2 separate regions of the Homo sapiens genome follow, and region 2 is linked to region 1. Evidence: fine-mapped expression QTL. Tissue or cell type: whole blood. Region 1 holds a variant in brackets; the other region holds the start of a gene. All regions are shown on one strand. Distances are from middle to middle.

What was found. PIP is the estimated chance that this variant, and not a neighbour inherited with it, causes the effect.
Region 2: it holds the start of NUMBL, and the variant in region 1 is fine-mapped to the expression of NUMBL in whole blood (TOPMed, PIP above 0.99).

The regions. Positions count from the first base shown.
Region 1 is chr19:40,660,244-40,668,585 of GRCh38, reverse strand. NUMBL (NUMB like endocytic adaptor protein) reads left to right here. Exons shown (of 10, transcript NM_004756.5): 10 at 448-2,681. The coding sequence ends at 1,118. Among named protein-coding and RNA genes, the nearest start is that of NUMBL, 26 kb to the left of the region's middle. RefSeq lists a silencer at 5,389-5,668. The variant C/T (reference allele first, on the strand shown) is at 3,925.
Region 2 is chr19:40,685,676-40,693,675 of GRCh38, reverse strand. NUMBL (NUMB like endocytic adaptor protein) reads left to right here and starts at 3,025. Exons shown (of 10, transcript NM_004756.5): 1 at 3,025-3,216; 2 at 6,681-6,765. The coding sequence starts at 3,193. COQ8B (coenzyme Q8B) reads left to right here. Exons shown (of 15, transcript NM_024876.4): 14 at 639-725; 15 at 1,303-2,146. The coding sequence ends at 1,641. RefSeq lists silencers at 2,333-2,572, 2,893-3,232 and enhancers at 1,919-2,856, 4,072-4,121, 3,795-4,734, 5,858-6,152.

The DNA of each region.
Region 1 (8,342 bases):
TCAGGAGACTGAGGCACGAGAATTGCTTGAACCTGGGAGGCAGAGGTTGCAGTGAGCCCAGATAGGGCATCCCTGGGCAACAGAGTGAGACTCTCAAAACGAACAGACAACAAACAAAACAAAATAGTGAATCCTAGGCTTGGCACTGACCAGTCAGAAGGGTAGTGGGGCTAGGAGGATGTCAGTCCTACTTAGACTTTCTCATCATAGGGCCTTAGAAGCTCAGAATTGTATGTTCTTAGCACTCCAGAACCATTACGTGGTCCAGAATGGTGAAGTCACTCGCCTGAAGTCAGCAAGCTCGGGAGGTGCAGAGCTGGGATTCAGAGGCAGGCGGTCTGGCTCCAGAGTCCGTGCTCTGATCCCCACACCATGCCAGTTCCCAGCCTGGGGTTCTTCTGCTGAAGCCGTTGCCCCCTCCCTCACCTGTCCCTCTCCTCTCTCCAGGGACTTCTGCCTGGGGTGAGCCCTCCGTGCCCCCTGCAGCTGCCTTCCAGCCTGGGCACAAGCGGACACCTTCAGAGGCTGAGCGATGGCTGGAGGAGGTGTCACAGGTGGCCAAGGCCCAGCAGCAGCAGCAGCAGCAACAGCAACAGCAGCAGCAGCAGCAGCAGCAACAGCAGCAAGCAGCCTCAGTGGCCCCAGTGCCCACCATGCCTCCTGCCCTGCAGCCTTTCCCCGCCCCCGTGGGGCCCTTTGACGCTGCACCTGCCCAAGTGGCCGTGTTCCTGCCACCCCCACACATGCAGCCCCCTTTTGTGCCCGCCTACCCGGGCTTGGGCTACCCACCGATGCCCCGGGTGCCCGTGGTGGGCATCACACCCTCACAGATGGTGGCAAACGCCTTCTGCTCAGCCGCCCAGCTCCAGCCTCAGCCTGCCACTCTGCTTGGGAAAGCTGGGGCCTTCCCGCCCCCTGCCATACCCAGTGCCCCTGGGAGCCAGGCCCGCCCTCGCCCCAATGGGGCCCCCTGGCCCCCTGAGCCAGCGCCTGCCCCAGCTCCAGAGTTGGACCCCTTTGAGGCCCAGTGGGCGGCATTAGAAGGCAAAGCCACTGTAGAGAAACCCTCCAACCCCTTTTCTGGCGACCTGCAAAAGACATTCGAGATTGAACTGTAGCCCGAGCCGCCCCACCCACTCCATCATCTCCAGGTGCCCCACGCCTGGGGGTGGAGGCACAACCTCTCCCCTAACCCTGCTCCCTGGGGCTGCGCCCCTCAACACCCTCTCAACACCCCCCTCCCTCAACCACCCCGACAACCACTACAGAACCAACATTGTGACGCCCAGGTTGCAACAGGATGGAATTCAGGGACGGACCCAGCCTGGCTAAGGGAACCATTTCACTGCCGGACTTAGGCTGGCAATGCCCCCTTCCCCAACCCCAGACACAGGGGTTGGCCACAATCCCACTGAATGCCCTTGGTTCACACTCCATTTCCCAGTTTCTGTTGACCCCCACCTTCCAGTGTTGGACAGGATGGAGGGGGGACACTTGCTTAGGGGCTCTCCTGGGCCCCACACCAGTGCCCACCCCAAATCTGGTCGTCTCCTCCCCCCATGCACAGCACAAGCTAAGGGCTGCCCTCTGCCCACACGCTGCGTTCACTGCCAATGCTGTACTCACCTCCATCACCCTCCAACTTTGGGGCCCATGTCTTCCTTGGGCCAAGGTCTCATGGGGGCTAGGGCCAAGTTGGGGGCCCAGGAGGCGGGGAGGGAGGAGGAGGAGAAGATGCGCAGTTACCTCATGTCGGTGCCCGCTGGGGAGGGGTCCGGGAAGAAGGGGAAGGGGTGCCTGGCGGGTACTTTTCTATCTTTTATTTCCAGATTTTTTTTGTATCTAAACTTGAAGATTTGTATTATACAAGGACAGCCAATAAAGGAAGAATATAATGGTGCCCCTCGGGAAACGAGGGTGTGTGTAGGGCGCTGGTGAGGCCCTAGAACCTTTCCTCCTGAGTCATGGACTGAAACAGAGTCAGAAGGATGTCCCTGAGTGATAACCTCTGAGTCATAGCGTGGTAACAGGTACCACTGACTCAGCACCTGCCAGGCGGGTATTAAAGGAGCCAAAATTAATCACCCCATTTCTATTCCTTACAGAGTTAGAATCAAGGAATAAAAAACAAATATTATGAACTGCTGGCTGGGCACAGTGGCTCACGCCTGTAATCCCAGCACTTTGGGAGGTCGAGGCAGGCAGATCACTTAAGGTCAGGAGTTCGAGACCAGCCTGGCCGCCATGGAGAAACCCAGTCTCTACCAAAAATTCAAAAATTAGCCGGGCGTGGTGGCAGGCGCCTGTAATTCCAGGAGGCTGAGGCACAAGAATCGCTTGAACCCAGGCAGCAGAGGTTGCAGTGACCTGAGGTCACACCATTGCACTCCTGCCTGGGCAACAGAATGAGACTCTGTCTCAAAAAAAAAAAACAAAAAAAAAAAAACTACTTCTAATTAGCTCAATATTAATATTTTAACAAGTTGGGTTGGTAACAGTATATCTTTGCCCATGCTGGCAAATTCTTGTTTTGTCAGCATTTTCCATAACTCTGGCCAAAGTGTCACCTGATGTGGCAACGTTTTACAGTCTTGCTATTGTTTCTTGAGTCCTTTAATCTATAAGATGTATTTTTAAAAATATATAACATATAAATTTTGTTTCGTTATAGCTCTTTAAAATGAGGTGGTTGATTTTGTGCAGTCCAATATTCTATTCCCACTGGATAGATGGGGAAGTTGAGTCAGTGGCCCACGGTGATACATTTGATTAGTGTGGGCCAAAGTCAAAGGCAGTCGTGAAACCATCAGGCTGAGGCCGGGCACTGAGGTGGCTCTCACCTGTAAGCCCAGCACTTCGGGAGGCCAAGGTGGGAGGATCGCTTGAGCCCAGGAGTTCGAGGCCAGCCTGGGCAACATAATGAGACCCTGTCTCTACAAAATAATTTTAAAATTAGGTGGGCGTGGTGGCATACGCCTGTAGTCCCAGCTGCTGGAGAGGTTGAGGTGGGAGGATTGCTTGAGCCTGGGAGGTCCAGGCTGCAGTGGTCCGTGATGCAGTCACTGCACTCCAGCCTGTGAGGGTGACAGCGTGAGACCCTGTCTAAAAAAGCAGACAAAACAAAAGGCTGGGCGTGGTGGCTCATGCCTTTAATCCCAGCACTTTGGGAAGCCGAGGCAAGTGGATTACCTGAGGTTGGGAGTTCGAGACTAGCCTGGCCAACATGGTGAAACTCCGTCTCTACTAAAAATACAAAACTTAGCCAGGCGTGGTGGTGGGTGCCTGTAATCTCAGCTACTTGGGAAGCTGAGGCAGGACAATCGCTTGAACCTGGGAGGCCAAGGTTGCAGTGAGCCAAGATCACGCCACTGCACTCCAGCCTGGGCAACAGAGCGAGACTCTGTCTCAAAAACAAAAAAGCATCAGGCTGTGAGGGAACAAGCCTAGGGGTCTGCCCTCTATAGCGTTTCCATTACATCCCATTAACCTGCTTGTGGACTCCAGGACTAGGAGACCTAAGACAGCTCTGTCGGGGTATGACGTTGGGGGAATGTCCCAGGCAGGGAGCAGAGGACCCTGCCAGAGATAAGCCACACTCTCACCTCCAAGCTTTTGCATTTGTCATTCTTTCTGCCTAGAACACCCTTTCCTTCATGGTGACACAGCACTTCCCAGAAGAATGCTACTCATTCTTTAGGACTCCGTTCAAATACCTTTTGTTAGAAGGTGACCCTCTTCCAAGGCCCTGAGCCCCATCCTATCCTTTCATTAGGATTTATTTATTTTTTGAGACAGAGTCTCACTCTGTCGCCCAGGCTGGAGTGCAGTGGTGTGATCTCATTGCAGCCTCCACCTCCTGGGCTCAAGCGATTCTCCTGCCTCAGCCTCCCAAGTAGCTGGAACTACAGATGCCTTGCCACCACA[C/T]CTAGCTAATTTTTGTATTTTTAGTAGAGACTGGGTTTCACCATGTTGGCCAGGCTGGTCTGGAACTCCTGACCTCAGCGATTTGCCCACCTCGGCTTCCCAAAGTGTTGGGATTACAGGTGTGAGCCGCCGCGCCCAGCCCAGTATTTTTGCTATTATTATTTTGGAGGCAGGGGTCTCACGCTGTCACCCGGGCTGGACTGCAGTGGGGCAATCATAGCTCATTGCAGCCTTGAATTCCTGGGCTCAACCAATCTTCCCACCTCAGCCTCCTGAGTAGCTGGGACTATAGGCGTACACCACTATGCCCAACTGATTTTTAAATTATTTTGTAGAGATGGGGGTCTCGCTATGTTGTCCAATCTGGTCTGGAACTCCTGGCCTCAAGCGATCCTCTTGTCTCTGCCTCCCAAAGTGCTGGGATAACAGGCGCCCGGCCCCATCCTACCTTTTTGGTCTAAGTTCAGACGGCTCTTCAACCCCCCCAGACTGAGTCAGCAGCACCCACTCTCCCCTTGGATCCTACAGGCCCCTCTCCTCCCCTATCCCAGCCCTGACCCATCTGCCTGTGCCTCCCCCGTCCTCTCAATGACTCATTCTGGGCTGTCACTATCTGGTGGCAGGTCTGTCTGCCTCACTGGACTGTGAGGGAGAAGGGGGTCTGGGGCGTCTCAGTCACTTCCCCGTGCCAACACAGGGCCAGGCACAGAAGAGGCAGCCTCAGTGTTTCCCCTCTGCAAACCACTAGGAAGTGAGAGGGGCAGAAACGGCCTAGGACTGGGACAGAGAGGATTTGAGCAACTGGAAGGATGGGGAACTGAGGTCAGAAGCACGCAGCAAATCTGGGACACAGTCAAGGCACCCCCACCCCGTCCCTGACTGATCTCTTCGTTCAACCACCCTTCCTTGCGCCCAGAGCAGCCTTTCTCAGAGCTGCCCCCACAACGGTTCCCGCGGATGCAGATGGAAGGGGGCCGTCCCGGGGAGGACCTCCCACAGGCTCCTCTTGGCCCATTTCCCATCTTCCCTCCCACGCCCAGGATGGAGACTCTGGCTCTCCACGGAGCTTTTCGCTCCAAAGAGGCCCTGGAACCCGGATCAACCGCCCACTCCCACTTCTCCAGGTTTCAGCCCGCTAAGAATAGACCAGGGACATCGCACTGGAAAGCCCCGCCCTACCCAGGAACCCCATCCCACACAAACGCCTATCGAGGTCATTTTGGGGGAACAGGAGGACGTCCCCCTGGGGCCGGTTCTGCACTCCTCTCTCCCGTTCTTTGGGAAGCTCCGCCCTCCGTTGCAGCCCCGCCCCTCGCGGCCGCCCCCTTTCCCGGAACCGCCCCCGGCCGCGCAGGCTATTTTGATGCATTCCACGGGTGACAGAGCCGGGCGCCCCCACCCCGCTTCCTGTTGGGTGATTTTGTTTTGTTTTGTTTTGTTTTTTAAAGCTCCACCCCCAGGAGGCCACAGTTTCTCCGGGAGCCGGCCGCGCAGGACCGGGGACAGCCCTGGCCCCTCGCTGCACAGCGCTGGGACCGCCCCACGGAGCGCGGCGTCTCATGCTCCCTGGGGCCCGCTGCTTCCACTGCCCTGCGCAGGGCCACGCGCCACCCCGGGCTGCCTGGCCGTAACCTACCCCGTCCACCCTCCAGGCGCGCTCGCCGACCTCCCGCACCTGTGGGGCCACGTGGTTGCCGGGAGCGCTCCTCTAGCGTGGTGAAGCAGCGCCCCCTCGTGGTCTTGCGCTCGCGGCGCCTGGGCGGCCGCCCCTCCAAGACTTTGCTAAGGCAGGAAAAGTGTTTAAGAAAAATTAAAATTGTGCTGGGCGCGGTGGCTCACGCCTGTAATCCCAGCACTTTGGGAGGCCGAGGCAGGTGCATTACCTGAGGTCAGGGGTTCAAGACCAGCCTGGCCAAAATGGCGAAACCCCGTCTCGACTAAAAATGCAAACATTAGCCGGACGTGGGGGCGGGCGCCTGTAGTCCCAGCTACCCGGGAGGCTGAGGCAGGAGAATCGCTTGAACCCGGTAGGTGGAGGTTGTAGTGAGCCGAAATCGAGCCACTGCACTCCAGTGATAGAGGGAGACTCGGTCTCAAAAAAAAAAAAATTGCTGTCGCATTCATGAACATTATACTTCAGGCCCTGGCTCAGCCATTCACCCCTCTGGGAAGTCCTCCCTGACTGGTCGGGCGCCTCCTTTGGGCTCCTATGGTTCCTTATGCTCCTCAACTGGGCCTGTACCTCCCCGCCCTGGCCCGGATCCGTCTGCCTGTACATCTCCCATCTGGACCTCGACCCCTTTGCCCTCTGCCTGCACCTCACCAGTCCCCGCCCCGACCCCTCTGCCTGTGCCCCCCATTCCAGCCCAACCTCTCTGCCCGGGCTTCCCCCATCCTGGCCTCCCACCCCTCTGCCTGTCCCCTCCCCACCATCCCGCCGTGATGGCTCTAGGCTGTCACTGTCTATAATGGGTCGGCGTCCCCGCCCTGCACAGAAAACCTCATGAGGGCAGGGAAGAGAGCTGTCTTGATAACTACTGAGTCCTCAGTATTACCAAGGTAACATTTATTTCCTCCCTCAACACTGGTTTTGTTTTAACAGCTTTACTGAGGTATAATCTACCTGTCATAAAATTCACCTATTATAAGTGATTTACTGATTTTGGGTGATTTTACAGTTCTGCAGCCATCACAGCCAATTCAAGAACATTTCCATCACTCTGAAAAGATCCCTTCTGCCCATTTGCAGTCGCTCCCTATTCCCTGTCCCAGCCCCAGGCAACCACTGGTCTACTTTCTGTCCCATACATATTCTCTTCTTCATTTTACAAGCATTTTCTGAATATTTATTTTTATCAGCTATTGAGGGCTGAGGGTACACAATGAAACTCACAGGCCCTGCCTTCAGGGAACTCAGAGTCTGGTTATTGTAATAGCTGATGGGAAAATATGTCCATGCACTAATTTCTTCATTCATTCAAAAAACATTTATTGGCCAGGCACTGTGGCTTGTGCCTGTAATCCCAGCACTTTGGGAGGCTGATTGGGGAGGGTCACTTGAGGCCAGGAGTTCAAGACCAGCCTGGAAAATATAGTGAGACCCCCCCCCCCACCCCGATCTCTACAAAAAAATTTTTTTTTTTAATTATCAAGGTGTGGTGGTGCACACCTATAGTCCCAGTAACAGGAAGCTGAGGTGGGAGGATTGCTTGAGCCCAGGAGGTCGAGGCTGCAGTGAGCCATGATTGTGCCACTGCACTCCAGCCTGGGTGACAGAACAAGACCATCTCTACAGAAAAAAAAAAAAAAAAAAAAAAGAGAGAAAAAGAAGGGTCTTCCAAAAATTCATGGAAAATGTGTATTATGAAAAAACTATGCATGGAGTTCAATTTTTTTTTTTTGCACCAAAATAAATTCATACTAACTTGTTATAACTTGTCTGAACAGGACCTAGTTTGAGACACTAAAATAAAACATCAGATTGAAAAGAGCCCCTATCAGAGCAACACGAATTCTAAAATTGAAGCAAGAACAAGCATCAAATTGATGGTGAAGCTTGGGTGGAAGAATGATGAAATCATTGATGTTTTCCAAAAACTTGACAGTGCCCCAGAGAAATCAGCCATTTACAAATGGATAACTCGTTTTAAGAAGGGACAAGTTCGGGCGTGGTGGTTCACGCCTGTAATCCCAATACTTTGGGAGGCTGAGGCCAGCGGATCATTGGAGCTCAGGAATTCGAGACCAGCCTGGGTAACATGGTGAAACCCCATCCGTACAAAAAATACATAAATTAGCTGGGTGTGGTGGTGCACACTTGTAGTTCCAGCTACTCAGGAGGCTGAGGTGGGAGGATCACTTGAGTCTGGGAGGTAGAGGTTGCAGTGAGCCGTGATTGCGCCACTGCACTCCAGCCTGGGTCATGCTGAAGATGAAGCCCACCGTGGCATACCATCCACATCAATTTTTGCAGAAAAAAATTAAATTTGTTTATGCCTTAATTAAAGAGGACTTACAGTTAACAGCAGAAACAATAGCCAACACCATAGACATCTCAATTGGTACAGCTTACACAATTCTTTTTTCTTTTTTTTTTTTTTTTTTTTTGAGACAGGGTTCTCATACTGTCGCCCAGGCTGAGTACAGTGGTGAGATTGTGGCTCACTGCAGCCTCAACCTCCTGGGCTCAAGCGATCCTTCCACCTCAGCCTCCGAAGTAGTTGGAACTACAGGTGCGTGCCAGCACGTTCAGCTAAGTGTCACACGCGTCCCTGTGAAGAGACCACCAAACAGGCTTTGTGTGAGCAACAAGGCTGTTTATTTCACCTGGGTGCAGGCAGGCTGAGTCCAAAAAGAGAGTCAGCAAAGGGTGGTGGGATTATGATTAATTCTTATAGGTTTTGGGATAGGCGGTGGAG
Region 2 (8,000 bases), 25 kb before region 1:
ATGAGAAAGTGGAGGCCCAACAGGCCGGCAGGTGGCAGAGCTGGGACGGAACCCTAGCCAGCTGGCCCCAGCTGGGCATCTCTCCATGCCCACAACTCCTGCCCTGTGTGTGTGAGCTCATGGCTGGAGAGCTGCTCTGCTCCACACGCTCATTTGCTAAAGCAAGGTTCACCCAGGGCCTCCTCAGCACCAGACCCTGTGCCCCGTGCGACTAAACCCAACTGGGATCCTTGCTCTCACGGGGCTCAAAGTCCAGTGTGGGAGACAGAGAGATGGCCCCTGGCAACTTTGGATGCAGTTCTGGGTCACGCTCATACCCGTCCAGTTGAGTGTTTGGACTCACCAGCAGCCCTGACACTTGTTTCTTGCACTGTTTCACTGTGGCAGTTCCCGGGCAGGCCCCACATTGCCCTCTAGGTGGGCAGGATCCCTAACCACCTCCACTCCCAGGCTCTGGAAGAGTCTTTAAGGGAGTCACAGACAGGCAAAGTTGGGAGCAGGAAGCTTCCAGGTGAGGGAGGGCCCAGGCAGATGAGAATGGAGGTGGGTACATGGGAGGCCCAGGCTTCCAGCTCCTCTTCTCCAGAGCCCCCTTGAGCCCCGGCCTTTGTCCCTCTAACTCCCACCCGTCTCCCCAGGTGGTGAAGGCTGCAGCTGATGGAGACAGAGACTGTGTCCTGCAGAAGTCCAGGGACCTCAAATTCCTCACAGGCTTTGAAACCAAGGTGGGGAGACACTGGGGGAGAAAGGGGCTGGTGTCTGTTGGTGGGGTGCAGTGGGGGGCTGCTTATCTCCACTGAGGAACTCGAGTAGGTGATGGGGCATGTCGATACCCGGGGACTGGGGGACTCTAGGAGGGGCTTGTCTCCACTAGGGAGAATGGAGGCTGTGTGTCTATACCTGGGGAGTGGGTGACTCTAGGAGGGATGCTTATCCATGCTGGGGGCTTTGGGGAGGAGTGGGGGGAGGTGGCTGCCTGACTTCTCAGGAACCCTGGGAACATGGGCACCGTGGATCTGTTCAGGAGGGGCGAAGGCCGCTTCTCTGTTGTAGAGAGAGTAGAGGGCTACTTGTCTGTTGGAGGCTCTGCAGGGAAGTAAGGGGTGCTTACTCGGGGAATAGGCAGCTGCTTGTCTAGTCCAGGCTCTGGAAGGAGTGGAAGCTGCTCACTCTTGGGGGAGTCGGGGCTTGTGTTGATGGTGGAGACTGGAGGGAGTGGAGGCTACACGTTGTTTCTGGGTTATGCAGAGGGCTCTATGTCCACACTGGCTGCCTTTGCTCTCCCCCCACCCCCACTCCCAGGCATTCTCCGACGCCCACGTGGAGGCAGTGATGATCCTGGGGGAGCCTTTCGCCACCCAGGGCCCTTATGACTTTGGGTCGGGGGAAACGGCCCGCCGCATACAGGACCTCATCCCGGTGCTGCTGCGGCACCGGCTGTGTCCCCCACCCGAGGAGACCTATGCCCTGCACCGCAAGCTGGCAGGGGCTTTCCTGGCCTGTGCCCACCTCCGAGCCCACATCGCCTGCAGGGACCTCTTCCAGGACACCTACCACCGCTACTGGGCCAGTCGCCAGCCAGACGCAGCCACTGCCGGCAGCCTCCCCACCAAAGGGGACTCCTGGGTGGATCCCTCATGACAGCCTCCATGGGGGATTCAGTCCCCAGAGCAGGCCGTACCCTGCTGTAGTGCCTCTTATCCCTTCCCCGTCTGCCCTGGGTCAGAGGAGCCCCCTTGGGCTTCCCAGTCTTGCCTGGCTCTCCTCCTTGGCCCAGGAGCTCAGGATCCCTGGGGCTGGGGAACTCCCAACTTCGTGCCCTAGATCCTGCACCTCCCCACTCGAAAGTGGGTATCCGAAAACTAAGCCAGGGAAGCGGTTAACTTATCTTTGCCAACATTTGAGGGAGCCTTGGGCCGCTGCATGTCGTTATGCAGATCAGACTCATCAGGGGGAGCCCTCACCTCTGCCTCAAGCCTCCCGTGGAAGGCGAGATGGTCCTGGAGGCAGTCCTCACCTCTGCCTCCCTCGCTCCTCCAACAGCTGCCTTCTCCCGGGTTCCAGCCTCTCAGTGTGTTGGAGAGGTAGGGGTGCGGGGTGGGGGGGAGCTGAATCTTCAATCGGAATAAAAGCAGCCCTCCCCTTCCCCCAGCTCTTTTCTCTGCGCTAGGGTTGGGGGGAGAGGGGGAGGAGCTCGCCAGCGGCCTCCAGGTGCAGATGGCCAGCCCCCCTGCACCCCCTTGTCTGAAAGCCTCAGCCCTGCCTGTGCCATCTGTTGCCGGGAACCTCCTTCTCGCCTTCCCCACCCCCCCCCACGTGCTGACCACCTGCTCTAAGGGCTGTGGCAGCTGAGGCCTCCCACACACACAGTGCCTCTTGGCTGCGGGCTCCCTCCCCTCACTCCTGGCAACCTCGCCTTTACTAATGGGCTCTAATGTCCCTGCCAGCTGCTTTGCCAAACCCACAGGATTGGCGTAGGGGGCGGCGGGGGCGCCGTAGCGGCCAGAACCGCGCCCTGGTCCCACCCCGGCGCCCCCGTTCCCAAAGCCGAACCGATCGCGCATCAGGACGCCTTGGTCTGTTCACACCCCCTCCCCTTCCTTGCAAAAAGTGCCTCGTCACCGCTCCTGCCCGCCCCCGCCGGGCTGGGGAACCATGGGGTTAGCGGGAAGATTTGGGGGTGTGGGGCGGCAAGGCGCCTCTAGAAGCAACTCTTTCGGACGCGGAGCTGGAGGGGATCTGAGGTCAGGTGTCACGGAGGGAAAGGGAGCCCAGGCCAGGACGGACCGGGGGAAAGGACTCGGCGATGTTCATAGGCATGCTCAGCTCGGGACTGGCCAATGGGCGTGGCGGGGCGGTGGCCGCGCCGGGGAAGGCGGGATGGTGTCTGCGTGTGGGCGGGGTCTTCAGGCCAAGGGGCGGGGCGGGGCGGGACCTTTCTGCATATACGGCAGGCGGCGGGCCAATGGGCGGGGTCGGGGCGGGGAGCCGAGGCCGAGGGACGCTCCCCCGCCCCCGGAACGGAATCCTCCCGGGAGCCGAGGAGGCTCGCGCGCGTGCATCCCGCACCATCCCCCGGCCCCGGGCCCTGGCCGGCGTCAGACCGAGCTGCCGCCGCCACCACCGCAGCAGCAGCAGTCGGGGAGCCAGGCCCAGCCAGGGCCGCGGGAGGCGGGGGCGCCCGGGCCCTGGATGTCCCGCAGCGCGGCGGCCAGCGTGAGAAGGGCGGGAGAGGGGGGCTCGGGTCGGGGGCGGCGCCGCTGCTGATGTGGCGGAGGGTGGGAGGCGGCCGCGGCGCCCGGATGGAGAGAGGGTGCCAAGGCTGGAGAGGGTGGTCCCGGGTGGGGGTCCAGGAACAGGCCCAACAAGCCAAAGCCCAGGAGACCGGGGTCTTGGGCACAGACCCCTGGGCCATCTCTTGCCAAGGCCCTGGAAATAGGGATCCTGGACACAGACCCCCCACAAAACCAAGGACAGGGGTACAGAGATTCTAGGTACAACTCCTAGAACTAGATGGGGATGGAGATGGGGTCGGGGACACAGCCCCCGTATCAAACCAAGGCCTCCAGGACGCGATTCCAGACACAATCCCTACCTCTCCCTGCCTAAGGGGGTCTCAGCACAACAACTGCCTAGGTACGGTCTCGAGGATGGGGTCACTGGGTACAGCGTTCCCACCACGCCAAGGCCTAGGGGGACTCCAAGCACAGCCTGCCCCCAGGTCTCAGAGGCACCCTGGGCACAGCATCCCCCCAATCCTTGGGCGGAGTCCCAGGCACAGCCACTTCTCAAAACAAGGTCCCTGTGCCTGGGACTCCACCCCACCCCAGCCTGAATAAAATAAGGACAATTTCAGGCAACCCCCAATCCCTCCACCCCCTGGCTTGGTCATGGGTCCCAGGGCACAGGATCCCTAGGCCACCCCCTTTGTCCCCAGGGCTGCCCAGCTGTCCAAGAGTGGCCCCACCCGCAGACAATGCACCGCTTCCCCCTCCTGGACCTGGCCCTCAGGCTCCAGGATACAGGCTGGGCTGGGGGCGGCTCCCCAGGGACCGGGTGCAGCCCTGTCTGTCTGCAGTGTCTGCGGTGACGGTGACGGCGGCTTTGTGTGTGGTACCTGGGGGGAAGGGGGGAAGCAAGCGATGGGGAGGTGGCTAGGAGTGTGCCCTGTGTTTGTGTGACTGTGGCTGTGTATGTGTGTGTGTGTGTGCACGCGTACGCTGCAGCTGGTGACTGAGGAATCCTGTGTCGTGTGTGTGTGCTTGTGGTGGTGTCTATGATTGTGTCTGTGACCCTAGTATCTGTGTGACTGTGTATGTGTGTGTGACAGCTGCTCACTGTGCAGAATCCTGTACTTTTTAGTCTGTCTGTGTTTGGAGGTGTGCATGGTTGTGACTGTGGTTGTCTGTGATTGTGTCTTTTGTGACCCTGTGTTTGTATGCCTCGGTAACTATAACTGGGTATGTGACAGTATGTGTTGAGTCTGGGGGTGGGCATGCGTGTGACTGACAGGACGTGGGTGGAGTTGTGACTGTGTGTGAGTGGAGTTGTCTATGGCTCCATGTGCATGTGTGACCCTCCCAGTGACTGACAATGTTTATAGTTGTGTCTCTACCTGATTTTATATACGTGAGTGACACACACCTGTCTGTGCAACTCTGCCTGTGTGACTGCCATTGTGTCTGAAGTCACATTGTATCTGTGTGACTGGGGTTGTGTGACAGTATTGTGTATGACAGTGGTTGCGTATGCAGAACCATGTCTGAGTGTGTGACTGAGGTTGTATTAATATAAATGACTGTATCTAGCAGTGTGTGTGATAACGAGTGATTGTGTGTATTTCTAGCCTTGCATGTGTGATTTGGGTTATGTATTTGACTTGGTGTCTGAAACCCTGGCTATTTAGAGGGATTATTTGTGTGTGACTAAAGCTGTGGATGTGTCTCCGTGCTGGTGCCAGGAAATTATGTTTGTAGGGGTGTGTATATGATTATGGCTTCCATATTATTGTGTTTGACCTGCATGTCTGACCCTGGGTGACTATAGATGTCTGTGTCTATGTCATCATCTGTGAGAGTGTGGGGTCTGTAGCTGTGTGCCTGTTTTTGTCTCTGTGTGTATGTGCTGGACTACCTGTGTTAGAATGTGTGATTTGGTGATGAGATTGGCCCCTGACTGTGCACATGGCTCCGTCAGGACCTGTGTCTTCTGTGTAAACCCAGCTATAAATGCCACATCCTGGTCACTGCATTTATGTGCATACACTGGACTGTGTACTTGTGACATGGGAAACTAAAACTGTGTGCTTATGTCTCTATGTGTGAGATATGTGTGTAGGTGGGGCTTGTGACTTTGTGCACCTGTCCACACGGGGCTGTGATTCTATATGGCCACATACTTGTCTGTGTGACTTGTGTGCCTGCATGAAGAAAGGCTATATGTTTCGCTGCATTGGAGTGACATGGTACAGCTGTGTATGGACACTGGGTGACGGGATTATGACCATGATAGGTGGCTGGGTCACATGGACATTGATGCTGTGGCCATGCCTATAGGACCACCATGGCTGTGTCTTGAGGGAGGCCATCCTTGGGGACAGTTGTTTGTGGGTGGTTGCATGCTGTGGCCATCAGTACCTCTGTATGTGGTTGTGTATAGAGGACTGTCCCTATGAGTGTGGCTGTCACAATAGACTGTGTGACTGATGCTGTGACCAGATTTGAGCACCTATGACTGAGTATGTGTGACCACGTGACAGTGTGTGGCCAAAAACAGTGTGTTGGTGTGACTGGTCTGGTTGAGGCTGCATGTGGTCTCCGTGGGACCAAATGTGTGTCTGTCCGTGTGCATCTGTGACCAGATGTCAGTGTGCAGCAGTGGAGATACGTGTAACAAGTGTATATAGCTGCGATTGTGTCGTGTGGGACTGGGTCAGCAAATGGGTGAACTCTGGGTGTGATTCTATCTGGGTGGGCCTGTGACGTCAGTATCTTGGGCGGGTGCCTGAGGAAACATAGCTGTCACTGGGTGTGGCCACGCATGTGCGGCTCTAGTGGGTTGTCTGGGCCCCGTTCTTTGTATGTGGCTGAGAATGTGGAAGTGACCAAATTTCAGTGGGTGGTGTGACCAGGTGTCTGCGGTGGGAACTGAGTGGGCCAGGACATGCTGCATGTATGTGGACAAATGTCTGTAGTAGAGACTGTGTGTGTCCGAACATGAATATGCGGCCAGATGTTTACAGTGGCAGCTTTCTGGGTTTGGGACTGTTTCTGTGTATCTGCGATCTGAGGTGTGTAGCTGTGATTGCGTCTATGTGTAACCAAGTGTGTAAAGCTGTGGCCAGATGCTAGGGACACCTGTAGATATGAGTTGGCTGCGTATGTGTGTAGCCCTGCACATGCATCTGGAGGGCAAGGCCACTCTCACAGCATCCCCTTGGGCAGTGAGGCTCTCCTGAGGCCAGCACATCCCCAACATATGCCCCCCAAACATACCTACTCCTTCCTGGGCCCTTGGAACCAGGTGGCTGATCTCCCTGGTAACAGTTGCTAGGACAACTAGGACTCTCATCAGGGAGCCCAAGATGGAGGGGGCTGGCCGAAGTCCAAAGTCGGGGTGAAGTATCAGACTGAGCCCCAACCCAGACAAACTTCTCACCTTCTCCTCCCCTACTCGGGCAGGGCGGACCCCGGAGGCCTGAGCGGCACCTGCCCCCAGCCCCCTGTGGGGCCCCGGGGCCCCCAGAAACCTGCAGGACGGAGCCAGGTGAGCGACCAGCCTGGGACAGGGCAGGGCTGAATGGGTATGTGGTCTTGCCTAACACGACCAGAGGAGCTGTCCCTGCGGTCACACAGGCTTAATCACACTCATGAGTGGACACCCTCAGGCATCTTCCTCAGCGACTGTCAGAGCCCCACTCATGCACAGACCCACACCCTGACACCCTTACAGCCTCAAGTGCAGAGTCACAAACACTCACATCTGTAGATATACGGTTAGAGACACACACACACACACAGATCTCTTTCAGATCACACACACTTGCTAATGCAGTGACACACTTGAACACATGCTGAAGTAGATGTTCATCACACTAATGTACACACATATATACACACACACACATTCCTAGACAACACCCAGATTCACAGGTGACCACAGACGCTCGCTGGATACAGACTCTGAGATACACACTCTCAAGAGACACACTCTTGGCCGGGCGTGGTGGCTCAATGCCTATAATCCCAGCACTTTGGGAGGCTGAGGCGGGAGGATCACCTGAGGTCAGGAGGTCAGGAGTTCGAGACCAGCCTGACCAACATGGAGAAACTCTGTCTGTACTAAAAATACAAAATTAGCCAGGGGTGGTGGCACATGCCTGTAATCCCAGCTACTTGGGAGGCTGAGGCAGGAGAATCGCTTGAACCTGGGAGGCAGAGGTTGCTGTGAGCTGAGATCATGCCATTGCACTCCAGCCTTCATTCGCAACAAGAGCAAAATTTCGTCTCAAAAAAAAAAAAAAGAGACACACTCTTGCACAGTCTGACAACACACACAGACCCACATTTCTACAGACGACAGCCACACTTTCACAGACAGCACCCGCGGGCCCAGGCTCTCACAGGGAGCTACGGTTGTGTACAAACATGCACACAGTCTCACAAAGAACACCCAGCACTCTCTCAGGCAACAGTCACACCCTTACAAATAACCCTCATGAAAACACTCTCAAAGACAACCTCATGTTCCCACACACCCTAACGGATGCACCACTGCACACAGATACACCCTCTGTGCAATACCCACACACCCACACTCTAAGGCAACAGCCACAGTCACACAGGCTCACCGCCAACAGCTGCACTCTTGGACACAGACAGTCTTGTAGATCCCTCAGATGCACTCTCCGAGGCAATGTCATCACAGACAATAGCCACACCTTCACACAGAGACATAGCTACATGGATAACAGCCATGGACACACCCTTTGAAAGACGACA